Regions from separate parts of the Homo sapiens genome. Here region 2 is linked to region 1. Evidence: fine-mapped QTL for protein levels in blood plasma. Region 1 holds a variant in brackets. A gene starts in the other region. All regions are shown on their forward strands. Region 1 overlaps RAB11FIP3 (RAB11 family interacting protein 3). Region 2 holds the start of CNTN1 (contactin 1).

What was found. PIP is the posterior inclusion probability: the model's chance that the variant is causal. The UK Biobank Pharma Proteomics Project read protein levels with antibody pairs (Olink). The fine-mapping took linkage between variants from a reference panel, not from the people measured, so its PIPs are less certain.
Region 2: it holds the start of CNTN1, and the variant in region 1 is fine-mapped to the plasma level of the CNTN1 protein (UK Biobank, PIP 0.99).

The regions. Positions count from the first base shown.
Region 1 is chr16:454,550-470,015 of GRCh38, forward strand. RAB11FIP3 (RAB11 family interacting protein 3) reads left to right here. Exons shown (of 14, transcript NM_014700.4): 2 at 6,855-6,948. Among named protein-coding and RNA genes, the nearest start is that of RAB11FIP3, 37 kb to the left of the region's middle. RefSeq lists enhancers at 11,691-12,320, 12,321-12,949. The variant C/G (reference allele first, on the strand shown) is at 5,911.
Region 2 is chr12:40,685,516-40,700,981 of GRCh38, forward strand. CNTN1 (contactin 1) reads left to right here and starts at 6,924. Exons shown (of 24, transcript NM_001843.4): 1 at 6,924-7,077.

The sequences.
Region 1 (15,466 bases):
TTGTATACCTCCTCAAAACCAAAACCAAAAAACCCCAAAAGCAAAAACCAAAAAAACCCACAAAACCAACCATGAAAACACCCCTGTCTCTGGAACTCCTTGTCCAAGGTCCCTGAGGCTAATGTGATTTGGAACAGAAGCCAACTTTCCTGCAGGTTTAGAAAGTGTCACATACAGGCTCTTTCTCATTCAAGCGTATAAGAACAGGCTTTCTTGGCCGGGCGCAGTGGCTCACACCTGTAATCCCAGTACTTTGGAAGGCTGAGGCAGTAGGCAGATCACCTGAGGTCAGGAGTTCCAGACCAGCTTGGCTAACATGGCAAAACGACGTCTCTACTAAAAATTCAAAAGTTAGCGAGGCGTGGTGGTACGTGCCTGTAATCCCAGTTACTTGGGAGGCTGAGGCACGAGAATTGCTTGAACCCGGGAGGTGGAGGTTGCAGTGAGCCGAGATTGCACTACTGCACTCCAGCCTGGGTGACAGAGCGAAACTCCGTCTCAAAAAAAAAAACAAAAAAACTAGGCTTTCTTTCTTTTTTTTTTTTTTCTTGGCCACATGCACCAGATTGAAGAATAAGCTTTCTTGTCTGTTCTCTATACAGTGATATGTAAAAATCACCACTCAGATCAAAGAATTGAGAACTGCGCAGCCAGGCGCCATGGCTCACGCCGGTAATCCCAGCACTTTGGGAGGCCAAGGTGGGCGGATCACCTGAGGTCAGGAGTTCAAGACCAGCCTGGCCAACATGGCGAAACCCCGTCTCTACTACAAAAATCAGCCGGGCGTGGTGGCACGTGCCTGTCATGCCATCTACAAAGGAGGCTGAGGCAGGAGAATTGCTTGAACCCGGGAGGTGGAGGCTGCAGTGAGCTGAGATCACACCACTGCACTCCAGCCTGGGTAACAGAGGCGACTCTGTCTCAAAAAAAAAAAAAAAAGAATTGAGAACCGCGCACACTCTCACAAGCACTCAGCAGTGGTCAGTCCATTCTTGGGTGGGTGATCGGATATGACTGGAGCAGGTGCTCCCTGTCACTGTTTTTGTTGTTGTTGTTGTTTTTTGGGAGATAGGGTCTCACTCTGTCGCCCACGTGGAATGCAGTGACGCAATCATGGCTCGCTGCAGCCTCAACCTCCCAGGCTCAGGCAATCCTCCCACCTCAGCCTTCCAAGTAGCTGGAACTACTGGCACGTGGACCGACGAATTTTTTGGAATTTTTTGTAGAGATGAGGTTTCACCATGTTGCCCAGGCTAGTCTGGAACTCTTGGGCTCAAGTGATCCATCCGCCTTGGCATTTCAAAATGCTGGAAAGCCAGGTGTGAGCCATTATGCCTGGCCTTAGTTTGGTTCAGGCTTTATACTAAGTGCATCTCAAATATTTTATTGAACATCCTTTCATTTCTAAGAGTACTTCAGTTATCTCTGTTAAAATGAACCAACCAGAAAGATTCCCACTCAAGTGCAGGACAACAGATATTAGTATCAAGAATTAAGGCCGGGCACGGTGGCTCGCTCACACCTGTAACCCCAGCACTTTGGGAGGCCAAGGCGGATGGATCACCTGAGGTCAGGAGTTCAAGACCAGCCTGGCCAACATGGTGAAACCCCATCTGTAAGGTGGGCTGAGTGGCTCACACCTGTAATTCCAGCACTTTGGGAGGCCAAGGTGGGCGGATCACTTGAAGTCAGGAGTTCGAGACCAGCCTGGGCAACATGGCAAAACATTGTCTCTACCAAAAATACAAAAATGAGCCGGGTGTGGCGGCACACACAGCTACTTGGGAGGCTGAGGTGGGAGAATCGCTTGAACCTGGGAGGCAGAGGTTGCAGTGAGTTGAGATTGTGCCACTGCACCCTAGCCTGAGTGACAGAGTGAGACCCTGTCTCAAAAAAAAAAAAAGAAAAAGAAAAAGAAAAACAAGGCTGGGCACGGTGGCTCATGCCTGTAATCCCAGCAATTTGGGAGGCCGAGGTGGGCAGATCACTTGGGGTCAGGAGTTCAAGACCAGCCTGCCCAACATGGTGAAACCCTGTCTCTACTAAAAATACTAAAAAATTGATTGGGCATGGTGGAAGGTAGCTGTAATCGCAACTACTTGGGAGGCTGAGGCAGGAGAATCATCCAAACCAGAAGGCGGAGGTTGTAGTGAGCTGAGGCCGCACCACTGCACTCCATCCTGGGCGACGGAGTGAGACTCCATCTCAACAACAAACAAAAAAACCAACAAAAAAACAACAACAAATCAAAACAAAACGAGCACTTGTTGGGAACAGCAGGGAAAGCCCTTTGTGTATATGTTTAGCTGCTTCGCGTCTGCTTTTAGAAAGAAGTGTCCGTGCCATCGGCAGGTGAGCCGCAGGCTTCAGTGCCATTGGGAGATACTGTATAGCCAGGCTTCCAGAGCCGCCTCTCTCCCTGCCCACGCTGGCCCATGTGCTGATCTAGTGTGAAGTTTACAGATAGCTTCGGGAACTCCTAGGAACATTTTGCTTATTATTGCTGTGGTTTCTGATAAGATAAGCTTTGTTGAAAACAGTATAATTCAAGTATGATAGTAACAACAAGATGCAGAAAGGCGGTTTCTCGTTCTGAAAGGTGCTTTGCTGTGAAGCCATAATACAGTGTGTTATTCGAGAATCCTGGGAGGAGTCTCTGGGATCCTAGTTGACTGTGGTGGGAGAACTTGTTCTGCTTTCCTTTCTTTCAGATTAGTGGATCATGTTTCTACATCCATAGTAGGAACAATGCAATTTGTCAGTAAGTTTTTCATACTGCAGTCACCCTGGAGCCAGTGACTGAGTGGATTCTCCACCATGGTGTTTCTGTAACTTATTGTCCGTCTGCTGGAGCGGTGCTGGCTGGCTTTGGCCACTCTGGTTTATGTCTCTTGGCTCGGTTTTCTGCCACTACTGGATTTTGCAGGGAAGGGCAGGCTGTCTCATTTTTCACAGTTTCACCTTTTTTTTTTTTTTTGAAAGCCTCTGAATTGAGTATTTTGGACTTGGAGAATTAGAACTATCCCCAAATCATCAATTACATGAAATCCATCTGTTCTACAGATTATAAAGAAAATATAATTAAAATGGAGTTTTAAAAATGTATACTTTGATTCACTCTTGTTCATTCTAACATGGTAACATGTAAAAGGGGCCTATTCTAGTTAATGATTTGTTTAAAAAATATTTGGTTAATGTTTCAGAATAAACAACTTGGTACTTTGTGTTCAATTAGTAGCTTCAGTGTGGAAATTCTTAGGAATCTTCAGGACAGATTGGCCAGTCTGGACTCCGGATTAGGTAACTCTCAGGTACCCAGCAAGACTCTCACATTCTTAGGAATGAGCTTAGGAATGAGGACTTTTGTGAGATAAGTGGGGAGATGTTTTATAAACTCCAGTTGTCTCCAGGAAGTTGGTTGATGATGGACTTCCGAGGCTAGAGTCACGCTAGCACACAGAGCCCTAGGATTGGGGCGATGGCCCCGGCCTCTTCCGTTGTGAAGGGGAAGCGGAAACTCAGTCTCTGGCTCAGGAATTCCACACTGTGGGGTCCCTTAGCTGGGGCTGGCCCTGTTTGAGCCTGACTTTATGAGGCATGTTGGCTGACAGTGGCGAGAGGGCCAGCCACGGGGGCCCGGGCCTTGCTCTGGTGCCCTGTGTGCTTCGGGCTCTCTGGATTGCCTCCTGGGCGATGCTATAGCCTTGCTGACCACGTGCTACACCCCCCATCCTTTTCCTGAAACAGAGCAGCTGTGTCCTGGCATCTCCAGCAGGGCTGCCCTTGAGGGTTCTGTGCTTGCTGCTTGGTAGCAGCCCCGGCATCTGGACTTCACCACAGGGCCTAGGGGGCCTTCCTCGGGTTCACCGATGCCCACAGGGCCTGGGGGGCCTTCCTCGGGTTCACCGATGCCCACAGGGCCTGGGGGGCCTTCCTCGGGTTCACCGATGCCCACAGGGCCTGGGGGGCCTTCCTCGGGTTCACCGATGCCCACAGGGCCTGGGGGGCCTTCCTCGGGTTCACCGATGCCCACAGGGCCTGGGGGGCCTTCCTCGGGTTCACCGATGCTCATCTGCCGTAACCTGCCTGAGGCCCTAGGGTTTTGTCAGTTAATGGATGTGGCTACAGCCAGGGCTCCTGCCAGCCTGTTGCCTCTCCCTGTCCCTGAGCATTTTCACAGTCCAGCCCGCCACCCAAGAGGGGCTTTCTTCAGGAGTCTGCCCCCTCTGTGGCTGAATGCTGCCTCCTTTTTCCTTTCTCCCTGGCCCACACTTCTTTCTTCTTTGCTCTCTTTTTCTCTTTTGCTGTTCTTGAAGTTTTCATTATGGAAGAGTTCAAACCCATATGAAAGTGGAGAGTAGTGAAATGGTGCACTGGTACCCATCCCCAGTCACAGCAACGTGCAGGCATGCCTCTGGTGACATCTGTGCCTCACCCCAGATTCTAGAGGTATTTCTAAGTATTTCAGTACATGTGTCTAAAAAGCAGTGCTCTTTAAAAAATTATGAAAATGTCATCACACCTACAAAAATGAACAGTTCCTTAATATCATCAAATATTTATCAGTGTTCAAACTTTTTTTTTTTTTTTTTTTGAGACAGAGTTTCGCTGTTTTTGCCCAGGCTGGAGTGCAGTGGCACGATCTCAGCTCACTACAACCTCCACCTCCCGGATTCAAGCAATTCTCCCGCCTCAGCCTCCCGAGTAGCTGGGGTTACAGGTTCCCACCACCACGCCCAGCTAATTTTGTATTTTTAGTAGAGATGGGGTTTCTCCACGTTGGTGAGGCTGGTCTCGAACTCCGGACCTCAGGTGATCCGCCTGCTTCAGCCTCCCAAAGTGCTGGGATTATAGGCGTGAACCACCACACCCAGCTTCAAACTTTTTTTTTTTTTTTTTTTTTAGCAGACAAATTCTCATTTTGTAGCCCAGGCTGGAGTGCAGTGGCACAATCTTGGCTCACTGCAACCTCCGCCTCCCGGGTTCAAGCGATTCTCCAGCTTCAGCCTCCTGAGTAGCTGGGATTACAGGCGAGCGCCACCACACCTGGTTAATTTTTGTATTTTTAGTAGAGATGGGGTTTTGCCATGTTGGCCAGGCTGGTCTGGAACCCCTGACCTTCGGTGATCCCATCTCAGCCTCTCAAAGTGCTGGGAATACAGGCGTGAGCCACAAGGCACCTGGCTGCAATGTGGTTTTAATTTAATTTGCATTTCTTTAAGGACTAATTGAGCATTTTTTCATGTGGTTATCAACCATTCACACATATTTTCTGATGAAATTTCTATTTAAGTTTTTTGCCCACTTAAAAAAAAATTGAGTTGTCTTTTTTTTTTTTTTTTTTTTGAGACAGAGTCTCATTCAATCACCTAGGCTGGAGTGCAATGGCGCAATCTCTGCTCACGGCAACTTCTGCCTTCCGGGTTTAAGCAATTTACCTGTCTCAGCCTCCTGAGTAGCTGGGATTACAGGCATGCGCCACCACGCCTGGCTGATTTTGTATTTTTAGTAGAGATGGGGTTTCTCCACGTTGGTCAGGATGATCTGGAACTCCCAGCCTCAGGTGATCCACTCACCTCGGTTTCTCACAGTGCTGGGGATTACAGGTGTGAGCCACCGCACCTGGCCTGAGTTGTCTTCTTAATTATAAGATTTCCTTATATATTCTGGACACAAGTCATTTAACAGATATATGATTTGCAAATACTTTCTCCCAGTCAGTGTCATTTTTTTGCTTTTATTAATGTCTTTTGAGTATGAAAGTTTTAAATTTTTATTTTTAAGTTTTGGGGTACATGTGTAGGATGTACAGGTTTGTTACATAGGCAAACGTGTGCCATGGTGATTTGCTGCACCTGTCAGCCCATCAGCTGAGTATTAAGCCCAGGTATTTTCTGTAATACTCTCCCC[C/G]CTCCCACCCCATCCCCTGAAAATTTTTAAATTTTTATGAAATCCAATTTACACTTGGCAGAATAAACCTGCATTCTTTCTGAAGAGTTTCATTTTGTGTTACGTCCATGTGTGAGTCACCCTACTTAGCGTTTATGATTTTTGATATCAAGGGTCTTTTTCCCTGAGTTATTCGCTACCAAGGACTCTGCAGAGCCAGGAAGGCATTTCTGAATGGGCGGTGTGTGCTTATCTATGTTATCTATGTAACATATCTATGTTGGCATGCTGGATCCTTGCCGGAACAATACCTAAAACTTCAGAACTGATCTCCCCACGTAAGACCCTGGCTGCTGGCGTTCAGTGGCCAGGGTCCTACTCCTGTGGTTCATCACGCCAGGTGCTGCTGGCAGCCCATTTACAGGGTGCTGCCTGTCCTGTGGCTGTGACCGTCTGCAGTGGCCCATGGAGGCCGTGCTGCCTCCTGCACGTGAGGAGTCAGAGGCTGTCACTGTCAGCACCGCCCCTGTTGGCGGCTTCTTTGCATGTGGTGAAAAAGCCAAGCTCGCGATACAGCCTAATCCCGATTCCCTAAAGCGGCCCGCAGCCTTCTTGGCACCAGGGATTGGTTTCATAGAAGACGCCTTTCCACAGACGGGCAGGGCGTTGGGGTGGTTTCAGGATGATACTGTTCAGATCATCCGGCGTTAGAGTCTCATAAGGAGCGCGCAACCTGGACCCCTCGCATGCGGAGCACACAGTAGGCTTTGCGCTCCTGTGAGAAGAACCTGATGCTCCTGCTGATCTGACAGGAGGGGAGCTCAGGCGGTAATGCTCCCTCACCTCCTGCTGTGCTTCCCCGTTCCCAGCAGGCCACACACCAGATCTCTCCCAGTCCGAGGTCCAGGGTTGGGGACCCCTGCTGTAAAGGCTTAGGGTAACCTAGTCTCATTTGGCAATTACAGGTGAAGGACTTAACTAAGTACTTGGATCCCAGTGGGCTCGGCGTGATCAGCTTTGAAGACTTCTACCAAGGGATCACAGCCATCAGAAACGGAGGTCAGTCATCCCCGCCATGAGCTCCCACCTCCTCTCCCGTTCCTCAGCCACCCTCTCAGCCACCTGCACATCACCAGGCTCCTCGTGCTGACTCTAACATCTTTCCTTCTCCTTGAAGCCCCCAACATACCCCAGGTTTCCAGGTGGTCTCTTTCCTTTCTTGTTACCTTCTCCTCACATACCCTGTTTTCCAGAATTTGCTGCGTTAACTACTTTTCCATAATGCTAGAAAGCAACTGCCCCCTTCCTCAAAGATTTCATGATGACAATTTGAGAATTTTCAAAATATTGAAAGAATGATTCCATGGCCACCCAAGTGGGTGTTCATCACCCGTGCTCTGCAGGCAGCACTTCGTCGCACTCTCTCCCCACGTCTCTGTCCATCTCCAGTCTGTCCCCCAGCCCCTCTTGAATGGGATGTGTTTGTAATCAGCATGCTTCCGCGCACACCGCCCTGAACACTGCAGCCCGTACCACCATCGTTCCCTAGAGCTCAGTGTTTGTTTCCAGTCTTCCTTTGAGTAAAAATTTACCTGCAGTGAAATGTACAGCTCACACCTGCTCCTCTGTGAGCTCCGACAGAGTCCTGTGCCTGGCAGTGCGGAGCCTGTCACGCACATCACTGTCCCCATGTGGGTGCCGCATACCCCTCGCCCTCAGGCAGTGCCTTCCCTCCTGCTGGCACCATTGCTGATTTCTGTCACCATGGATTAGTTTTGCCTATCTCTCTTTTTTTTCTTTGAGACTGAGTTTCACTCTTGTCACCCAGGCTGGAGTGCAATGGCCCGATCTCGGCTTACTGCAACCTCCACCTTCCGGGTTCAAGCGATTCTCCTGCCTGAGCTGGGATTATAGGCACCCACCACCATGCTCACCTCTACTAAAAATACAAAACATATAAAAATTTTTGTATTTTTAGTAGAGACGGGGTTTCACCATGTTGGCGGGGCTGGTCTTGAACTCCTGACCTCAGGTGATCCGCCTGCCTCAGCCTCCCAAGGCTGAGGTGCTGGGATTACAGGCATGAACCACCGTGCCTGGCCAGTTTCACCTGTCTTGAGGGTTCGCGTGCTCTCACTTGGCTTCTTTCCTCAGCACGATCCCTTCCCCAGCACGATCCCTTCCCCAGCACCATCCCTTCCCCAGCACCATCCCTTCCGCAGCACCGTCCCTTCCCCGGCACCGTCCCTTCCCCAGTCCCCCGGCACCGTCCCTTCCCCAGTCCCTTCCCCAGCACCATCCCTTCCCCAGCACCGCACCATCCCTTCCCCAGCACCGTCCCTTCCCCAGCACCATCCCTTCCCCAGCACCGTCCCTTCCCCAGCACGATCCCTTCCCCAGCACCATCCCTTCCCCAGCACCATCCCTTCCTCAGCACAATGTCTTCCCCAGCACAATGTCTTCCCCAGCACCATCCCTTTCCCAGCACGATCCGTTGCGTGCTTGTGCCGTATTTCGTTTCTTCATTCTCCTGGTGATGGGCACGTTTGTGTACAACTCTTTGTGTGGATGCGTGTCTTCAAGTCCTTGGGGCCTGTATCTAGGAGTGGGTCATGTGCTGGGGTAAACTCGGTTCTTCACAGTGGCCGTGCCTTTTCACACTCTCACCAGTCCCCATACTATACACTGTCCGTCTTACGTCAAGTTCTGAAGCTCTGAACAGGCCATCTCACTTCCTCATGTTTGGCCAGGCGGTGTAGGGGTGACGGTGGCGGGTCCTTTCCCTCCTTCATGCACGTGCAGGATAAGTAGACCTTGGCTGGGGCCCTCAGAGTCAGCAGGTGCAGTGAGGGAGACGGATGCCCTTGGACCTCGACCTCAGGTCTTGTCTGTCTCCTCCACAGAATTATTGCCTGACAGTGTCTCTAAGGGTTTTCTCAGATGCCAAGTCTTTAGATGGCTCTGGGGAAACGTGCTGTGTGTTGTTCCCCGGTTTTTTTTTTTTTTTTTTTTTTTTTGAGACAGAGTTTTGCTCTTGTTGCCCAAGCTGAAGTGCAATGGCATGATTTCGTCTCACTGCAACCTCCGCCTCTCGGGTTCAAGCGATTCTCCTGCCTCAGCCTCCCGAGTACCTGGGATTACAGGCATGTGCCATTGCGCCCAGCTAATTTTGTATTTTTAGTAGAGACAGGGTTTCTCCGTTTTGGCCAGGCTGGTCTCGAACTCCTGACCTCAGGTGATCCACCCACCTTGGCCTCCCAAAGTGCTGGGGTTACAGACATGAGCCACTGCGCCCGGCCTGTTCCCCATTTGTTACTCTTTATTTGACTGTCTGTTCTTCCACCCATGAACATGTTGTGGGACCAGCACGGCCTCTGCGCTGGGCTTGGCCCCGGGGCCTCTGTGGTGAACCAGCACCAGAGCAAGGCCAGCGGGCTGCGGCAGGACAAATGGGTGAGGTGCTGCTGCTGTCAGCGTAGCAGGCCGGGGGTGAGATGGGAACTAGGCAGGCAGCCCTCTCTGAGGAGGGGTGGAGGGGAGAAAGGACACCCTGACAACCAGGTAAAGACCATCTGGCCCAGGTGAGGAAGCAGTCCTGAGGTGGGGCGAGGGGCCCAGGACGAGGATGGAGAGATACTGCAGGCTCTGCAGGCTGAGAGGAGCGTGCAGGCAAGCTCTGGGTCAAGGGGGCCTGCAGAGCAATGGGCAGAGTGGGTGGCCACAGACCCTCAGGAGGCAGCATTGGCAGGAGAAGGGGGAGGAAGAGGACAGTCAGGAGGCCTCAGAGTCTGCAGGCTGAGCACCAGCAGGTTGAGGCTGATGGGGCCGTGTCTCAGTCTAACTGATAAGCTGCAACCCTTAAGTAACATCTTAAGAGGATAGGTGTGTACTTTATACATTTATTTAACGTTTGTCCTTCTGTACAAAGCTTTCAGTAGCGGCTTTGTGAGAATTTTGGCGTCTCACATACTGTGCCTTGAGGCTTGCTGCATGGCGTGCTGCAGGTCCTCCCTCCAGGCCTTCTGGAAAGTCTGGTTCTCCTCAGGTTACTCCTGGGACATGGCAGCTGTGCCCATGACCCTCGGGATGAGTTTGTTCTCTAACTGATTCACCGGTTAGCTCTGGGGAGATTCTAGGTGTAAATTTTTTCCTCTTAGTTTGAAAAATCCATTATGGGCCAGGCACAGTGGCTCATACCTGTAATCCCAGCACTTTGGGAGACTGAGGTGAGAGGATCAGTTGATCCCAGGAGGGTGAGACCAGCCTGGGCAACATAGTGAGACCTTGGCTGTGCAAAAAAATAAAGTAGTTGAGCATTGTGGCGTATGCCTGTAGTCCCAGCTACTTGGGAGGTTGAGGTGGGAGCATCCCAGGAGGTGGAGGCTGCAGTGAGCTGTGTTTGTGCCACTGCACTCCATGCACTCCAGCCTGGTGACAGACCCTGTCTCAAAAACAAACAAAACAAAAAAAACTTGCCATTAATTCCAAACAGAATTTTGTGTGTAATAGAGAATGCGATCTTTATGACACTGATGCTTTGGTACTTGCTGGGCCGGCTGGGTGGTTTTTATGCATGTGATGGGTACGCCTGAGAGGATGCTTCTTTTCTAATCATTGGTCCCCTGAGTTCATGGAGGTGCGAGCTGGAGACTCACGTTAGCTTGGTCTCAGTCGCAGGGAGGAGAAAAGCCGCTCATGAAGCTGGTAGCTGTGTCGTTTTTGTTTTGTATAGCTGTGTTTCGTCTTCACTCTTAAGTCAAGAATTACTGGATGCAGGCTTCTAGGTTGATGGTGAGGGAGCCCGGGGACCCCCAGAACTGGTTGTCATCGGAGAGGCCTCAGTGTTTGGGGCTGAGATGGGTGCATGGAGGCCAAGCACAAGACCCCAGGAGGCAGTTACCACTTCCATGAAAAACAAGAAGTGGAATAAGACAGCCTGTACTTCTTGGTCCAGTAACAAGCCATATTTTACATAGCCATAATAGTTAAATTGAATATTGATGTAACTGAAGATGGCGATGTAACCATTTTGGAAGATTGGAGGAGGGAAAATGGGGCAGGGTGCAGTGTGGCAGGGCATCTCATGGGGACTGTTTGGCAAAACAGAGGGAAGTAGATGCGAGCTTAGAGGGGAGTGTGGGCGGCCTGTCAGTAGCCACGGCCTCTCAGCACTGGCTCCTTTTTCTTTTGAGATGGAGTCTCGCTCTGTCGGCCAGGCTAGAGTGCAGTGGTGTGATCTCGGCTCACTGCAACTTGCGTCTCCCAGGTTCAAGCGATTCTCCTGCCTCAGCCTCCCGAGTAGCTGAGACCACAGGCTCGCGCTGCCACACCTGGCCAATTTTTTGTGTTAGAGATGGGGTTTTGCCATGTTGGCCAGGCTGGTCGTGAACTCCTGACCTCAGGTGATCCACCCACCTCGGCCTCCCAAAGTGCTGGGATTACAGACGTGAGCCACCGCGCCCGGCCAGCAGTGGTTCATTTTCTAGTGACAGGCACGTGTATGAAATCACAGGGAACAGGACTGTAACTCCACGCATTTTGAATAAAACCAGGAATTCTTTGTTGTGACTGCTGGTCTTGTTATAAATGTTACAACCCATTTCCTCGGTGCCACAAAGACTCAGAGCACTCAGGGCCCTGGCCAGTCACTGGCTGTGCTGGTCTCGGCTTGTCATAGGGTAAACTTGCTCTGCACAATGTGGCTGGCAGAGCGTGTTCCTGGGCCTGTGACTGAGGGCAGCCTGCAGGAGATTTGGGCTGGAGATGTGTTCCCTCGGGAGTCAGGGACACAGCCTGTCATGGAGAGTTAAGACGGGTCTTTTGTAGGTTTGGACAGGTGAAGTGCTCAGATCCCTCTGCAGGGTCAAGGCTGGGAACAGCAGTGGCCCCGGGTACCATGACATGGGCAGGAGGGAGCCACCTGGGTCCACGATTCTGTCGTCAGGGTAGGGGTTGGTTTGTTCCTGTGGACCATGGCTAACGTGAAATGGGGCAAGCTCAGCTCTAGGGGTTCCTGGGAGGCCTTGGCTTGGAAGGTGCCCACTCTCAGCTCAGGAGTCAGGGTGTGGGAGATGCCCACCAAGCAAAATGAAGCCTCTAGCCTGGCCTGCTGCCCTCGGAGGAGCCCGATGCTCTGTCTGGGAAGCCTGGGGGCTGCCAGCTGTGGACTGTGGCTGCCTGTGGTTGCCGGTGTCTTGGCTTAGTGACTGAAGGGGTGAGAGAGTGATCGTCCAAGGACAGCCCATCTCCAGATGTTTCTTAGTGGTTGCCCAGCCACCTGACACGCCAAGCTGGGGCCTTCTCCCAGACACCGTCCCCTTCTCTCTTTGCTGTCACCTGGGCCAATCCCACAGCAGCTGGGGCACCCCGTTCTCCTTCCCAGCAGCTGACAGATGGGCCTGGGAGGGCTCCTGCGCCTGTCTGCTTGAGAGGGCGGTGAGCTAGTCATCGTGAGCCGGCCAGGGCTCTCCTATCTCACTGCATTAGAGCTTGAGCCAGGCTGGTGGAGGTGGCTGCAGCCGAGGGAGAGCACGGCTGGCACCTGTGAGGACCATGGATGGGGACACATGGGGCAACGGGCCCGTGAGTGCTGTCGAACCAGCCTGTTCCAGGCTCTGGGACGTAGCACGAAACGGCAGTGCAGAACCCCTGCCCTTGGGAGCTGGCTTTCTAGTGGGAGACAGACCACAAAGTAAGGCAGGAGCTAGGGAGGCAGAGGAGTGGGGAGGCCTCCCTGAGAACGTCTGGGATGGGAAGGCAGCATCCCAGCAGGGCTGCACCTGGCATGTTTGGAGGCCACAGGGAGGCAGGGTCAGAAGGAGCAGGTGAGAGGCAGGCCTCACAATTCTGTCTCCAGCTCCAGGCTCCTGAAGAGGATGGTGGGGCATCCCTGAGAGCTGGTGTGAGGGGTGGGACACTGAGCTGACTGCAGAGCTGACTGCAGAGTGGAGTGGGCGTCAGGGAGGAGGTGCAGTAGCCTCAGGGAGGAGGTGCTGGGACGTCAGGGAGGAGGTGCAGGGGCCTCAGGGAGGAGGTGCTGGGACGTCAGGGAGGAGGTGCAGGGGCGTCAGGGAGGAGGTGCGGGGGCGTCAGGGAGGAGGTGCAGGGGCCTCAGGGAGGAGGTGCTGGGACGTCAGGGAGGAGGTGCTGGGGCCTCAGGGAGGAGGTGCTGGGGCGTCAGGGAGGAGGTGCTGGGGCCTCAGGGAGGAGGTGCTGGGGCCTCAGGGAGGAGGTGCAGGGGCGTCAGGGAGGAGGTGCAGGGGCGTCAGGGAGGAGGTGCTGGGGCCTCAGGGAGGAGGTGCAGGGGCCTCAGGGAGGAGGTGCAGGGGCGTCAGGGAGGAGGTGCTGGGGCCTCAGGGAGGAGGTGCTGGGACGTCAGGGAGGAGGTGCAGGGGCCTCAGGGAGGAGGTGCTGGGGCCTCAGGGAGGAGGTGCTGGGACGTCAGGGAGGAGGTGCAGGGGCCTCAGGGAGGAGGTGCAGGGGCGTCAGGGAGGAGGTGCAGGGGCGTCAGGGAGGAGGTGCTGGGGCGTCAGGGAGGAGGTGCTGGGGCCTCAGGGAGGAGGTGCAGGGGCGTTGGAGGAGGTGCAGGGAAGTCAGGGAGGAGGTGCAGGGGCGTTGGAGGAGGTGCAGGGAAGTGAGGGAGGAGGTGCAGGGGCGTCAGGGAGGAGGTGCTGGGGCCTCAGGGAGGAGGTGCAGGGGCCTCAGGGAGGAGGTGCAGGGGCCTCAGGGAGGAGGTGCAGGGGCGTCAGGGAGGAGGTGCAGGGAAGTCAGGGAGGAGGTGCTGGGGCGTCAGGGAGGAGGTGCTGGGGCGTCAGGGAGGAGGTGCAGGGAAGTCAGGGAGGAGGTGCAGGGGCGTCAGGGAGGAGGAGGTCCTGGGGCGTCAGGGAGGCGGTGCTGCCATGGCATTGGACACATGGCCTCTGGGGCTGCGGGGTCTGCTTTACTTTTGAGTAATTTGATGTCATGATTTATGTTTCGTTCGGAAGGAGAGTGAAACTAGAATAAAACGAAGTCGAAGATGATTTTGGAATTATTTCATAGCATTTAGAAGAAAGGAAAATGTGATCATCCAAACCGCACTTCAGCCAAAGTTCACTTCAGGTGTTAGCTCCATCGTGGCTGCAGCAGCCTGTGTTGTCTGTCAGCCCTGTCTGCGTCGAGGAGTGACCAGCAGGATGTGCTGGCCTAGTTTGCTGGGAAGCACAAGGAGGCTTTCCTGTCACAGCCACAGGCCTTGTTTCAGGAATAGAATGAGATAGAGAGGGATTGTTCCAAATAGGCCATTGCTGTGTCTCACACACCCTCACGCTTTGGAAGAATAAGGGAAACGCACGTGAAAAATTCCTAATTAATTGAAAATTGTTTTAGTTTTTATAAGGAAAACTAATATGAGAATGGTATTTAGGTCCTACCAAGAATATAAAAATGCCATCTGTGTTCATATCCCCTGCTCCGCCCTCTGGGGCAAGACCCTCAGATTGTTTGCCCACTGTCAGAACCTGAGCTGTCATGCGCTGTGTCCAAAATGCTTCGCTGTATATTGAAAGTTTTTAGTTCTGTGTTTCAGTGTTTATAAGCGCAGGCAAGACTGTTAGCATTTTAAAATGTAATTTAATTTTTAATTTATTATTATTATTATTATTATTTTGAGACAGACTCTCGCTGTAGCCCAGGCTGGAGTGCAGTGGCGCGATCTTGGTTCACTGCAACCTCTGCCTCCCGGGTCCCGGTTCAAGCTATTCTCCTGCCTCAGCCTCCCTCCCAAGTAGCTGGGATTACAGGCACATACCACCATGCCCAGCTAATTTTTGTATTTTTAGTACAGACGGGTTTTCACCATGTTGGCCACTATGGTCTCGAACTCCTGAACTCGTGATCTGCCCACCTCAGCCTCCCAAAGTGCTGGGATTGTAGGCGTGAGCCACCATGCCCGGCCTATTTTTTATTATTTTAAATGTATTATTTATGTATTTATGAGACAGGGACTCACTTTGTCACCCAGGTTGGAGTATAGTGGCATGATCTCAGCTCACTGCAGCCTCCACCTCCCAGGCTCAAGTGATTCTTGTGCCTCAGCCTCCCGAGTAGATGGGACTACAGGCATGCCCCCACCACACCTGGCTAATTGTTTTTGTGGAGATGGGGTTTCACTGTGTTGGCTGGGATGGTCTAGAACTCCTGACCTTAAGTGATCCGCCCGCCTCGGCCTCCCAAAGTGCTAGGATTACAGGCGTGAGCCACCACACCCGGCCTTATCTTTATTTTTTGTAGACATAGGATCTTTGCTATATTGCCCAGGCCAGTCTTGAACTCCTGGACTTAAGCAATCCTCTAGTGTCAGTCTTCCAAAGTGCTGGGATTACAGGTGTGAGCCACCATGCCTGGTCTCCACTTTTCTTTTTTCTTCGAGACAGGGTCTTGCTCTGTCACTCAGGCTGGAATGTAGTGGTGCAGTCTTGGCCAACTGCATCCTCTGCCTCCCTGGCTCAAGCCTTCAGAGTAGCTAAGACTACAGGTGTGTCCCACAATGTCCAGCTGATTTTTTTCTTTTCTTTTCTTTCTTTCTTTTTTTTTTGAG
Region 2 (15,466 bases), not on the chromosome of region 1:
TGGGGACTCTCTTTTTCTGGATGTCTATTTTCTAAGATTCACCTGTCTTACTTCTTTCTTCTGTTGTCATCTAGAGTTCTGTCCACTATTTCTTCAAGACAGAAAGATCGTGCCTTTATTGTTGTTTGAGACTTGGCCATCCTGTTTGGAATCAGCCAGTTTCTGCATTCAAGACCAAAAACTAGATGAAATAGGAAGCTACTTTCTGTCATTTCCTTTTCCCACAAATATTCACTTCTTCAGTTTCTGCCTGCTTTGGACTATTCTACAGTGCCCTCAAGTAGGTGTTCTTCTCTTTTTCCCAGAGTTTATAGTTTTTATCTATAGGGTAGATGGTCAACAGTAGTTACTCCTCTATTACTGAAAGCTGGGCCTGTACATTTTTTTTAAGAGCACATGGGGCATTTACAAAAAAAAAAAATGCAAGTTTTGGTTTATAAACAAAGTCTCAACAAATCACCATAGGTTGCAACCCTTTTAAAGTATTTTTCTGACAAAAGAAATTTAAAATTCTAAAACAAAAAGATAAACTAAAAACCTTAAATGACTATATATAAAACAATGGACTTTTAAATAATCTTTGAGTCACAAAAGAAAAACAAAGATTAAAAAACATTTGGACAACATGCTAAAAAAGACATTAAAATGTGTCAGATATACTAAAGCACTACTTAGAGAAAATATTATAGCCTTAAATGCAAATATTTAAAAAGAGAGAGGGTGAAAAGTCAATGATGTATGTTTCCATCCCAAGAAAAAGAAAAAGAATACCAAATCCAAACTAAGTAGAAAAGGAGGAAGGAAATAATAGAGATAGGAGCTGAAATAAATAAAATTAAAACCAAATATACATTAGAGAAAAATAACAAAGCCAAATTGATATTTGAAATGATGAACAAAATTTCTGAACACTGTGAAAAACAGACAAGAAAATAGCTGACAACTTATCAGTAATCAGGAATAAAATTTAGATTATAAATACAAATCCAATAGACATTAAATATAATAAAGGATATTGTGAACAGTTTTGTTCAAAATATTCAAAATAAGTTTGAATATTTGGATGAAATGGACAAATTCTCTTCTCTGTTCCTTCTCCTTTGCACCTCTGTATTATTGTGTGAGGGTGGGATGTATATTTGGGTAGATGACCTTTTATAAAAGAACTGCTTTATTGTATTAGGGCATTCTTGCATTGCTCTAAAGAAATGCTTGAAACTGGGTAATTTATAAAGAAAAGAGGTTTAATTGGTTCACTGTTCTGCACACTGTACAGGAAACATGGAGCTGGCAGCTACTCGGCTTCTAGAGAAGCCTCAGGCAGTTTACAATCATGGCAGAAGGCGGAGGGGGAGCAGGGATGTCACATGGTAAAAGAAGGAGCAAGAGAGAGAGAGTAGAGGGGAGGTGCCACATGCTTTTAAACAAACAGATCTTGTGTGAACTCAGTGTGAAAGCTCACTTATCACTAAGGGGATGGCCCAAGTCACTCATGAGGGATCTGCTCCCATGATCCAAACACCTCCCACCAGTCTCCACCTCCAACACGAGGGATTACATTTCAACATGAGATTTGGGTGGGGACAAATATTCAAACTATACCATTAGCAAATAGTTTTGAATATGAGTATTGTTTAACTTTGCTCCTCATTTTATGGCATAGTAAACTGAGGTTTACAATTCTTTCCCTATTCTCTTAGCTAGTTATTAGTGGAGAGTTGAGCAAAGGTGTTGTTGTTTAAAAGTTCATGTGTTGAAAATTTAATACCAATGCAACACTGTTGAGGGGTGGGACCTGTAAGACATGATTAGGTCATAGGGCTCTGCCCTCAATGTGTGGACTAGTGCCCTTATGGCAGGAGTGGGTGATTTATAAAAGAGTAAGTTGAGCCTTCTTCCCTCACCCTCCTTTTTTCCCTCTGCCATGGGATGATGCAGCAGAAGGCCCCCACCAGATGTCAGCCCTTTGATGTTAGACTTTCCAGCCTCCAGAATTGTAGGAAATAAATTTCTGTTCTTCATATATTACCCAGTCTCAGGTATTCTGTCATAGCAGCACAAAACAGACTAAGATAAAAGGTCTTCTAACGTCCAGTCTTTCATCCACTTCAGAGGGTGAAGGTATCCATTATTTCAAAGAGCTATTCAGAAAATAGGATTTTCAGTGTCTATAATGAGAGTTGGTAATGAAAGGAAAGGACATATTAATTAAGGTTGAGAGTGGGAGTTCACTAATAATATCTGACTGCTGACTTTCCATGAATAAGGAGACTAAAGCTACAATTTAAACAACTGAATTGAGCATTGGCCACTCCCCATGAGTTGTATGAGTTGAAAGAATTTGAGGACACAGTGGCTATGAACTAAGGAGTAACACATCCTTTTGTTACATTATACATTGATTCCTATTATATAAATGGGGCAACATGAAAGATAAATTAGAGGACTCCATTGTGAAACAATAGATGTGAAGATGTCCTTGCAATATTAGCATGTGTCCTTTTCTGTAAATTTGCTCTTTTGGTGCATAGCAGTTACTGCTAAAGCTAAGAGATTCAAATATTACTCTTAATCCCTAAAAAGATTACAGTGGCTCTGCATGAGTAGCAAGTTGCTGCCGTTTAATATATATGCAGTATTTAGTATTCAAAAACTTTCCCGTCCTGGTCTCCCCACCACGTGGCACTGATAGTGTGTGTGTGTGTGTGTGTGCATGCAAGCTTGGTGCACTGTGCATCCATCCCATTGCCTGGATTCCCAGTTGGCTATGTAAAAGCTAGGTCAGTGAGCTGACGTGATCTCTGAGATGCTGCAGACTGGGTTTAGCATGACTCTCTTTAAACCAGCAGGCAGAACCTTGGTTACCTTTCTGCTGTGGTAATTGCAGCTTAAAATATTAATTGGAAAAGGCCCGTTTTCCTTACTCTCCTGCTTTTTTGCCATATCGAGTATGTTAGAAATTGTTCTGGGAAGCCTGGAGAAGTGAGGAAACGGTGGGCGGAGCAGAGGAGAAAGAAAGGGAGTACATGCTGTGGAAAGCTGCACTGTTGCTGTAGTTTCCTTTCCCTTCACTGAGGTTTAATCACTAGTTGGAGGAAATTGGAATGTTTGAAGAAGGAGGGCCAGTGCAGGGTGGAAAAAGGAGGGGAAGACAGGAGAATTCAATAAGGCCAAGGGCAGTTTAGCAAAGCAATGCCCAGTAAATTGTACTATGGAACTCTGTAAGTGACTAGGGAGTCAGAGCCATCCAGGGCACATGACAAAATTGTCCTACTGTTTCTTTTGAAGATCTGCAGACAGGTTCTATACCAGACTGCCAGATTGGAAGCCTTCAGACTATTGTTTCTATAATTCCCTTCTTCCTAATTTTAGGGACAGAAGTGCCAGCTGGCCATTCATTTTCCAACAGCTTTCTTCATACCTCGACACCAGTCCTGATGACTCTGATCCCATACTCATGAAGCCGACCTCAAACTTACAAGCACGTTGAATCTGAGCTGAATTTATAGTTAAAGTGGCATGCTTTCACATATTTTTATAGACGCTGGAAGATGAGTACACCAGCTGGATCAGTCCTGAAAACATCAAAAGGCTGGATGATACAGGGAGGAAAAAGAGAAGGAACTCTGCTGAAAGAAATACCAAAACTCTTATTGTTCATGTGGTAGAAAAAGTAATGAATGAAGTCTTAAGACCTGGGGTCTAGCTGCAGCTTTCCCCTAACTAGTCACATGACCTTAAGCAAATTCTGTCCCTCCCTCACAGAATAATGAGTGGAATTCAACAATTCTTTCTTTTTCTTTTCTTTTTTTTTTTTTTTTTGAGACAGAGTTTTGCTCCCATTGCTGCCCAGGCTGGAGTGCAATGGTGCCATCTCGGCTTACCGCAACCACCTCCGTCTCCCAGGTTCAAGAGATTCTCCTGCCTCAGCCTCCTGAGTAGCTAGGATTACAGGCATGGGCCAGCATGCCCAGCTAATTTTGTATTTTTAGTAGACACTGGGTTTCTTCATGTTGGTCAGGCTGGTCTCGAACTCCCAACCTCCGATGATCTGCCTGCCTCGGCCTCCCAAAGTGCTGGCATTACAAGGAGTTCAATACTTTCTAAGATCCTTCAAACTTTCATATTTTCAAAACCATATATTTGTCAGCAAATACATATTAGATGTCTGCAATATGCCAAGCATTATATACCCACCTATAATAGTTTACTGCCTTTGTTTTTGAAGGACCACATTTCTCTTTGGTTACTCAATTTCCTCATGGTGAAATGCGACTAATGATGACTCTCCTGCTTATTTTAGAACACAGAGGGAAATTGTATCTGAAAGTGATTTGGAAAATCTAAAATGTTCTGCAGCAGCAGATACCTTTGACATATTCATTTGTATTGTGGGAACATATGTACAGGTTTTTCTCTTTGAGATAATAAGCAATAACCTGAAAATGCTCTGTTTTACTTGAAAATGTGTGAGATGCCTGATCCAGAGAGAAATTATCTTAATACTGTTCCAGAGTTGTGTTTGCATGTACACACAAAGCTGCTAATTAGATCACAGTAAATGCACAAAGTAACATTGTCTGCTTGAAGAATAAAGAATGTGTTCCATGAGAGCTTGCCTATTTTATTCACCATCACATTTATAATAGTAATATTTGTTGAAGGAATGAATGAGTGAAGCAATGAAAGAACGCAGATAGCAGAGATGTCTTTAGTTTTCTTTTCATTACCAATTTCAATTCTTGTGTTGTCTTCAATATTTAGGTATTTTCTTTGATACTTTTTCTTCTCCTCTGATTACCTCTAGAGGAGAGTATGTTGAAGCTCATTTTGACTCAAAATAATTTATGCTTAGGAATCAAAAGATGTTCGTGTTGCAAACACACATTCCTTAGAAATATTACTATTGTAATTGCTTCCTGAGATCATCTTTAATGTGTCCAATACATTATTCTGCTTTAGTTCTGTAGCACCTAACACAGGGTATGGCATTGAAAAAGTACTCAGTAATTCATGAATGATTTGGCCAATCCAATGGAATAACTGGTGTGAGTACCTGGGACAGAGGTGCATGACTAATAGGAGTATTGTGTAAGAAATGACACAGGGGTTCTGAAATTTTGCCACGGCATATTTAGTCATTTCCATTCAGTGTTAAGATGGTTGTCACCACACAAATAATATCTATTTGTTCACTGTAAATTTTCTCCAGGGTCCCTTCCCACCTTCAAATGCATTATTTTATTTTATTTTATTATTTTATTTTATTTTATTTTATTTTATTTTATTTTATTTTATTTTATTTTATTTTATTTTATTTTATTTTTTGAGGCGGAGTCTCGCTCTGTCGCCCAGGCTGGAGTGCGGTGGCGCAATCTCCGCTCACTGCAAACTCCGCCTCCTGGGTTCACGCCATTCTCCTGCCTCAGCTTTCTGAGTAGCTGGGACTGCAGGCGCCCAACACCATGCCCGGCTAATTTTTTGTATTTTTTGTATTTTTTTTTTTTTTTTTTTTTTTGAGTAGAGACGAGGTTTCACCGTGTTAGCCAGGATGGTCTCGATCTCCTGACCTTGTGATCCGCCTGCCTCGCCTGCCAAAGTGCTGGGATTACAGGCATGAGCCACCTCGCCCGGCCCCCACCTTCAAATGCATTAATCGGATTCCTTCAGTATTATGAAGAAAACATTATGAAGAGCCTTACCTGATGATAGTAATAACAACCGTAACCACTAAGTAGAGTCTATATTTATTAATAGCAATGTCATCTTCTCTAACAGTTGTCCAGTGTCCCAAGCCTGTCATAAGCTCTTTGAAGCTCTGTGAGAATGAGAGTTGTGTCTTATGCTCAGCACTTAAGATGGCTACTTAATTCAGATAGAAGAAGAATGTGGCTATTTGCAGGCAGAAGGCAACTTGATTCCTCACATGGTACTATATACTAAGACACCCTACACTCCCAGTTTTACACGTGGTAGTTCTAGCACGTTCCTTCATTTAAGGAGTCTCTTGAATTCCAAAATTTCCAGATTCCACCTGAATAAATGGCAGAGATGGCAACTGGACACAAAGTTATTTTACCCTGTTCCCTTCACATAAAAGGCAGGCTTGGGATCACTTAGGTTTGGGGGCATAAACATCCTCTCAGTGTCTGAGTACTAAAGAAATGATAAACTACTATCAATAGAAAAGTAACAGATCACTTAATTATCAATCAGTCTAATGGTGATTATTTTAAGACTTTTGCCACAAACTGAACTGCCCCAAAGCAAATCTCTCATGCAGTTTGGCCTTAATTTCTTTTACCCTTTTTTTTTTTTTGAGAGGTTATTATGCAGTGCTTTCCCGTTTAAAACACTGTTTCTACCAGGGAATATTAGGGGGTCTTCTGCATTACAGACTAAGCAATTCCGTCTTTTCTCAAGAAAAACTGCCATGTTACATCTGGACAAAAATGGAAACTTTAAAAAAAAACCTCACATCGTTTTATTTTCCTTTCTGTGTGTGTATTTTTTCCCACATAAGTATCTTATTATTTCCTAATCGAAGCTCATTCTTCTCTATGAGGCGCTGGCTTGGTATTTTCGCCTGACAAATCTCCCGGAGCAGATGGTCCCTTCAGGGAAGCTTCAGGAAAGTGCTGGGTGTCTAGTTATGCCTGGACCCTCCCTCCCTCTTGGGGCCCCAAATGACAAGTCATCAAACCAGTTTCTCTCCAGCAAGGGTCCTTGATCCGGTAGCAGCAGGTTTGGGTTTCAGGCACTGCAGAGACCCTTTGCAGTTGGGTTTAGCAGCTACCCAAGTCTGCAGCCTGCGCTGGTCCTGGGGGTGAGAGTGATATCCCTGTTGTCCAATCAGAGAAGCGGGTTTCCCTGTGGTCCCCGCCCCACTTTCCCTGCTGCCCCAATAACCGCCCTAAAAGGCCGGGCTTCTGCTGTCAAGTAGCCAGGGTGGGCTCCGCCGAGGCGAGGAGGGGCGCCGGTGGGGAGATGCGCTCCCAGGTGTTTGCAGCGGAAGTGGGAAACCTGTAGGGTATGGTCCAGCTGTGCCGCACCGAGGCGAGCAGGAGCAGGGAACAGGTAGGAAGCTGGACTTTTCCTTCTTTGCAGATAAAATAAAGAATGCGCATTTCCATGCTGTTGCTTCCCTTCCCCCAGCCCCGCCCAGCCCTCGTCACCCCCAAATCTCCTGTGGTCCCTGCAGCTCTCGCCGTGCGGCGCGGGAAGGACTGGGGCGGAGGTGGCTGGGGTGCGGGGAAGCAGGGGTGCGGGATGCCGGAGCCCTGGGGTGCCGGGCAAGGCAGGACGGCAGTGCCCTAGAAGAGGGCTCCGAGCTCGGGGTCTGTGTCTCGTCAACTTTCCTTTCGGAGGCTGCCGCCGCCAGCGCCGGGAACTCGCCCCAGGGATGCCATATCGCCTCGGCAGGGGAGGGGTGGGGAAGCAGAGAGGTCGGCAGCCCGGGGCCTGCAGGTCTTTTTCTCCCGACGCCGGCCCGCACCTGCTCATCTTTCCCATCCCACCTGGGCGCCTGGCTAGCGCATCCCGGAAAACCTGGGAGCGGTTGCGGAGAGGGGAGGAAGCGACTTGTTTGTCCCCTGACCCCTCTGTTAAGATCTAGCTCCCTTCAGGAGATGGGGGTGGGGAAGAATCCCTGCAACTCGAAGGGCACGTTCCGATTAATTACGTCTCCGTTGAGAAGGCACCGGCCCTTCTCCACGATCTGCGGCAGGTGGGAGGGAGAGACCGCGGAGCCACGGCCCCTTCCCTCCTAGCCTGGCGCTGTCTACGGGAACCACCTTCACACCTAGTTTCTGAAAGGTGGATTTGGCTTCAGGGATTTCCAGGGAGTCAAGTGATTGTGCCCGGATGGGCTCCGAGCGGCTGCGAGGCTGCCTCCCTAGGTGACCGCATCTGGGTAGTAGGTGTTGGCCCAGTGCCGGTTCCTGCAGGAGTCAGATTGCTGGGAGCAGTAGGCAGAAGAATTGCAGAGAGATCCGACGCTGCATCACCCTCTGGGACTGATGACACCCTGCTTTGAAAATTCCTGAAAAATTGGGATGATGGGAAAGAGGGAAAGCGGATAGCTGCGACCTTTCCTTATTTATTTATTTATTTTCATGCCAAACCGGGCATGGGTATTCGTACGTGTGCTTGTGTGTGCACATCTCCAAGGTGGAGCTATATATAGCTCCTGCATACCCAGCCCGGCTTCCCTGCTGCTGAGCCGGCTGCCTTGGCCTTCTCAAGCAATCTGGAAGCACTGAGTGGGCGGGGCAAAAGGGAATCCAATTCTCCATTGGGGGAAAAGCCGGAGAAGAAGCATTCAGACTGCTGAAACCCTGCGTGAAATAATGTTTTTGTAACTCACGTAAAGATCAATATTTCATATTTCATGTTTTCAATATGTCATATTTCATGTTTTCAATATTTCAGTATTTTGCAAACATTCTTAGAGTGCCAATATAATCTTCATCCATTTCGCCGCATTTTTCGGTTTCTAAGTGTACATATGAACCTTACCAGCCCGAAGTGTAACGCAAATCAAATTAATACATGCCGTATCTGGGATATTTTATTAGACTCGGCATAATGGTTTGGTTATTTGGTAGTAAATTTATTTCAGTGGTAACTTATGGCTAACAGCATTTGGGGATCTGGGAATGGATCCACCCACTTTCCAGGACTAAGGAACTGCTAGAACCCTTGCGGGGGTAGATGTGAGGTATTTCTTTGTACAGATTTTACATGTGGACCTGATATTTAAATTTGTACTGCTTTTTCATATCACATCTATTTGTACTATGTGAACTTTCTTTTATAGATTGATGTATGTGCATTTATCTTTGCCATTCCCTGAAATTACTTATTCCTGATGACAACCTTTCCATTTTCACAGATGAAGAAACTAAGATTCAGAAGACACAAGTGATTGGTTGAAAGTCTTCTGAAAACTTTAATATTCCAACAACCTGCCGTGTAATTATACTGCATAGCAGTTTCCCCTCAAATAGAATACTTTTTAGCTTCCCAGGATTTTTGGTCCTGGCAACAAAATGTGGTTAATGTTGATACCAGGAACAATATAAACCAAGTTTATTCGGTTCTAGTCTGACATGTATCCCTACAAAATTTAATTCTGTGTTTTAAGAACAAAATTCTAACTTGCCAAGTCATTTTGAAGATAAATTATTTAATCTACCAAGTTACCATCATAGGCAGTGCGAGCTGGCTTTTAATTTTGCTCTGCAACTTCCTGATGATCTGATTTGGAGCAAGATAATTAAACTCTGAGAATCTGTTTTCTTGTCTTCAAAAGGAATTTTATAGCATTGAAATTTCAGGTTGCTATGAGGGCCATAAAAAGCATGCATGTTTCTATCATGGGGATGGGCGCATAGTGGGTCATTAATAAACAGGGCTACTGGTAATAATAACAATACATAGGTATGTATCAACTAAATGCATTTTAAAATTCATGGTTCTAACAAAACGATCACTCCTCTTCAGAATCTCTAGTAGACTATTTTCACTTGGGAACTTAATCATACTTAGTCTTATTTTGTTGCTTAATCCTCATTTGTATGTCTGATTTGTTTTCTAATTAGGAAGTACTTTGCAGAAAAAGACTACACTTATAATCTTTTTGTATACCCCACCACATTGAACACAGTCCTATAATAAGTAGCCTTAAAGATTCTTGTTCAGGAAGCATCATCCTAAGAAGCTGGATGGGTGCAGCAATGATTTGGGGATATTTTTTTGGTAGAAGGCTATGCCTTGGGAGGAAACTTCCTCTGGCTTTATGATCCTCTCCATGAGGAGTAATGGATGACATAAGGTGTTTCTATATCTTTTCATAGAATGACTCGGTTCTACAGTAGGGATTATGACTATGTACTGGTTCTATGTATTCTCTTGTATCTTGTGTCCCTTGAGACCAACTAGGAAGAGCTGAAATAGACAATTTATATTTCTGTATACAAAATATGTCCTGTAATTGCCTTATTTCAAAAAAAATCAACAAATTCTCCAATTTCCATCTATTTCTACATGTAAATTGGCCATGGTCTCTATCATATCCCACAACTTATTCTAACTCACCAGTAAGCTCCTCCTCAATTCCAATGTTTGTTTTCTTTTTATTGATGTATTATCGATTGTTCTCTTCTGACCTTCTATTTTCCATATTGTCCATCTTCTTGAAATTTTGCTCCTTGACACCACAATGCTCTGATAGCGTACTTTTTTCTTAATTTTTCTAACTTTCCTTTCTTTGTCTCCCTCTTATCTTCTCTTTCTACTTCTAGCTTTCAAGCAAATCCCCCAAATTGATGACAATTTATCTTATTGAAAATAAAGTTCTCCTTCTGCATTTCCATTCCTAATCTCCCTCCCATTAGCCATTTCCTTTACACTTACCCTATCGGCTAAGAGCACAGGCTTTGGGAGGAAGCCTGCAGGTGTTAATATTTATGTATCATGATGCAGTTAAGCGAACATCAGCAAGTCAACTGGGGATTATCATAGCACTTACGTGAGAGGATTTTGTGATTTGTAAAATATTAAGTGAGATAATGCGTGTTAAACATTCAAAATAAGGTTTGGCCCATGGTAATTACTCATAAAGAATAGCTATTAATAATAGAAGTGCTATTGTAGCAATTGTAATGCACAAGGTGAAAACTGGTTTTGCTTTTTCCCCATCAATAGGCATCATTCCTAAACTGGCTTTTATCAATGGAGACTACAACTTTACAGGCTTTCTGGCTTGTGGTTAGTTACTTTTTAAGACTTTCTTTCCTCTAGTCCAAGTGTTCACCATATAGTCAGTAATTGATTCATTTTTATTTTCAACTCTAATTTGTATCTTTCTCTGCTTATTCCAGCACTAGTTTCTTCTGGCACTCCATGCCTGGATGAGTCCAGTAGGCAAGTTATCAAAACTTCCAATTTATAAGTCTATCTGCTTTAATCTAAGATGCCATGTATTATTGGTATAATGTGTTTTCAATTTTCATTAGTGCTTCTACTTTCCTTTGAAACTTTCACTGTACTTTAGTTCGTATCTTAAAAAGCACTGATTTTGGAGCAGGAGACTCAGGTTCAACTCCTGACAACAGGACTGATCCGTTGTGTGACCTTGGAAATGTAGCAGCAGGAGGATGGGGCATTATTTCACTTCAATAATATGAATGACCAACTGTGTAAAGTTACACTCAAAAGTCTATCTATTTAATATTCAATTGAAAATAATATCTTATTATTATAAGGACATCTAAAATCATTAAAGAAATACTGGGAATAAAGAAAAATCCACCAAATTCCGCAGTACAAAGAGATCCTATTTCAATCTTCTAGTCTTATTTCTATTAATATAAATAGGTATTTTTCAATTATAGATTTGAGTTTACAGTGAACATTCACTTTTGTATTTAGCTTTTTAAACTTAATATACCATAAACATTTATTCATTTCATTTAATATTCTTACTATCCATGTGTTTTTTGGCTGTCAATATTCTATGATAGATCTTCAGATTGTTTTCAGTTTTGCATCGTCAAGAACATGAACCTTTGTATACATTAATATTTGCATTTCTGACCATTTCCTTATGACACCTTAGAAGTTACCCAGGCAAAAGTGTAAATATTTTTAGCCTCATAACACTTACTGCCAAATTGCTTCCCCCAAAATGTAAGCACAGATTTATTCTCTACCAGTGGTTGTACCAGTTTGGCCATACTCTCATTAACACTTGATATTATTTTTAAAAATTGGGATCATTTTGATAGTACAAATTGTGTATCTAGTTATTCTTCTGAGTTATTGTTCCTATGATTTTGGATGAGTTCAAAAATGTTATATTTATAGGTTCTTTGTATTTTTTAATTTGTGAATTTCATTTGACTCTTTATTGGAGTGTTCATATTTTCTTCATGTAATAGGAAATCTGAGGTATACTGCAAAAATTGTCTGCATCTTGTTCTTTGCATTTTAAAAAATGCTTTCTAACACACAGAAATGTATAGCTTTACTGTAGTTTATAAATCTATTTGCAGTAGTGTCTCTTTGTAGCTTTCAGGTTCAGAAAACTTTCTACCACTTAACGGAGAATTGAATATAAAAACAACATGTGACGGTGCTATTGCTGAACTTCTTTCCTCCTTTGAAGCAGAATCTGGCTTATGTATATCATATGTATATCCCAGTGCGAAATGGCTCTGGGGACACATAAAATCCACTCAGTCTATTAAGATCCTATTATTCTTTAGGCAGCTCTCCCATGAAGTGAATAGTACCTTAATTCTTTCTGAGCTACTATTGTCCATTTTAAAAGAGCCACAGGGCAGAATGCACTATGGAAGATATTAATGGCCAGGTTACTCAGCCAGAGCAGGGCACATTGTTTGCACAATTATCTGAATGACTCAGGCACTAAATCTGCTTCTGCCAGGATTATCCAGATGGTCCTTAACTCAGTAGATAATTTTTCACTCCTGTACTTGATTTTGATGGTGTAGACCTGAGCATGTCACCACTTTTCCTGCACTGTCTTGTTACTACTCAATTTGCTTAGGGCTGGTTGCTTTAGTTTCTTTTATGAGAGGCAGGTTTGCCCGGTTCTCCAGAGCATAGGTGTTAAGAGTTATGCAGAGCTTTGCATGAAACCTAGCTCAGTCAGTTACTAGCAGCGTGCTTTGAGGCCAGCCACTTAATTTTTTTTTTTTTTTTTTTTTTTTTTTTACGGAGTCTCGCTCTGTCGCCCAGGCTGGAGTGCAGTGGCGTGATCTCAGCTCACTGCAAGCTCCGCCTCCTGGGTTCACATTATTTTCCTGCCTCAGCCTCCCGAGTAGCTGGGACTACAGGTGCCCATCACTACGCCCAGTTAATTTTTTTGTATTTTTAGTAGAGATGGGGTTTCACCGTGTTAGCGAGGATGGTCTTGATCTCCTGACCTTGTGATCCGCCCGCCTCGGCCTCCCAAAGTGCTGAGATTACAGGCGTGAGCCACCATGACCGGCCATGAGACCAGCCACTTAAATTTTTTTACAACATTGTTTTCTGTGTAAGAAACATATTCAGAGTTTGAAGTCCCTATTTCATTCTCCTCCCTCATAGTCGCCTTCTTCTAAGTACATTCTATATGTCATAACCACAGTTGTCTTTCTAAAACCAATTTCATCGTATTCTTCCTCTGCTGAAAATTTTTTGAGTTAGTTCCCCTTTTTTTGTATTAGTAAGATGTCTGAAGTCTTTTGCATTGCACCTAAAGTCCTTTATTAAATGGTACGTGGTAACTTCTCTAGATTCATTTTCTGATTAATCAAATTTCTTCCATCTCCAATCTCCCGTAATGTCAATCAACTGAACGGTTTGCCTTCTCCTAATGCATCTTGTTTCCTCTTTTCTCGCAACACCCTCCCATGTTCCCCATGTTCTATTCTCTACTATAAATAACCTGTTTTCTTGTCTGCTTTTTAACTGACCTAACCTTTTCATGCCTTGGGTCAGGTGCCACCATTTCTTGGAGGACTTCCCCTGAATTCCCAGTCTTAAATTTTGACTCCCTGTGGATATCCCTGCCGTGTCACTTACCATACTATATTGTACTGATTGGTTACTTGTCTCTTGCCTCCACCGTAAGTCCTTGAGGATAGACACCATATGTTATTTTTCTTTGTGTCTGATAGAGGACCTGACATAGAGTTGATACTTAATAAATATTTTCTGAAGAAATGAATAAAAGAAGGTTAAGACTAAATTAGTTTTTAGGATTTCAACAAATGAAGGATTCATATCTTTACCCTGGAAACCAATCAATAAAAGCTAAAAATTATGTCAATCTTCACAATATTTCAAAAATTAACTTCCTGGTTTTGTTGATTTATACAGAGTAAATAAAAGAGAGTTTTTTTTTAATGAGGAATTTTGTAATGAAAAGCATGCCTAGGACAGCCAATAATTCCAAATTGCTAAATCAGTCAATAAATATCTTTTAAATAATTCTGCATTTTAAAAGGAAAGAGGAATGCATAGTTACATGGATAATGTCGATGTATAAATTTAGCTGTGTTGGAATTAAATAATGGCAAAGTTAATTTCACTTTTCTTTATTTAATAAAAGGTCTTCCATTGGTGTCATCTTTGGTAGATTACAAAGCATGGTCACATGCATAGCCTTATTTGATCCTTCGTAACAGTTTTGAAAGTTAGATTCAAAGGCATGGTTATCCACATTTACAGATAAAAAAAAAAAGCTCAGAGAAGTAACTAATTTGCCCAAGGTTACACGTTAGTGGCAAATCTGGACAAGTAAGATGATCTTGCTCATAGTTGAGTGTCCCATGTGTTATGGTTGGCCCAGAACATTTCACTGAGAGATGACTGCCATGATTTTGTCTAGGTTAAGGACAACAATCTTGATAATAATAATCCCCTGAAAGTCCTGAGCAATCTAGTAAAAATGTATTGCATTATTACCTATATAGGGTTTTTACTTAGATTTTTAGTAATCTGAGAAGAAACCAGCTGACAGAACTTTTTGCTTTAAACATATTTTAAAGTCTTATATTTAGTTACTTGATCATTTAGAACACACACACATACACACACACACCATATTACCCTTTCTTTTGTTTGTTTTGAAGTATTTGCCTTTTATATTAGGTGACAAGTACAATGCTCTTTCCCTTACTTTTTTTTTAAAACTTGAATTATTAAAATATTTTTTTCAGCCAGGCATGGTGGCTCACGCCTGTAATCCCAGCACTTTGGGAGGACGAGGCGGGCAGATCATGAGGTCAGGAGTTTGAGACCAGCCTGGCCAACATGGTGAAACCCCATCTCTATTAAAAATACAAAAATTAGCTGGGCATGGTGGCACATGCCTATAATCCCAGCTACTCAGGAGGCTGAGGGAGGAGAATCATTTGAACCCGGGAGGCAGAGGTTGCAGGGAGCTGAGATCATGCCATTGCACTCCAGCCTGGGTGACAGGGTGAGACTCTGTCTCAAAATAAAAAAAAAAATAAAAAATAAACTGGATTTTCTTTGTTTAGTAGACAATGTTCAACTTTAGTCTTCAGGTTTTGGCTTAGCATATATTCTGTGTAATCTTGGAGAACCAGATAGGTCAAATGCATTTTTTAGGAAATAGCACAAGTGATGAAAAAGAAATTTATGAAAAACAGATGGGTACTTAGTAAGAATGGCAATCTATCCTAGTTTGAAAATTACAAACACCGAGATATAAGATTGATTTTTAAAAATTGACTTGTGCAAACATCTTCTCTATAATTGCACCTCAATTACTAACAATCACTTATTGAGCACTCACTCTGTGTTGGGCATTTAAAAAAAAATGTGTTGCACATGACCATCTCAAAACTTTACAAAACCAGTGAAAAGGATTTTTAAAGTTTATTATTCCGATTTTGCAGATCAGGGAAGTTAGTTATTAAAAAGTTAA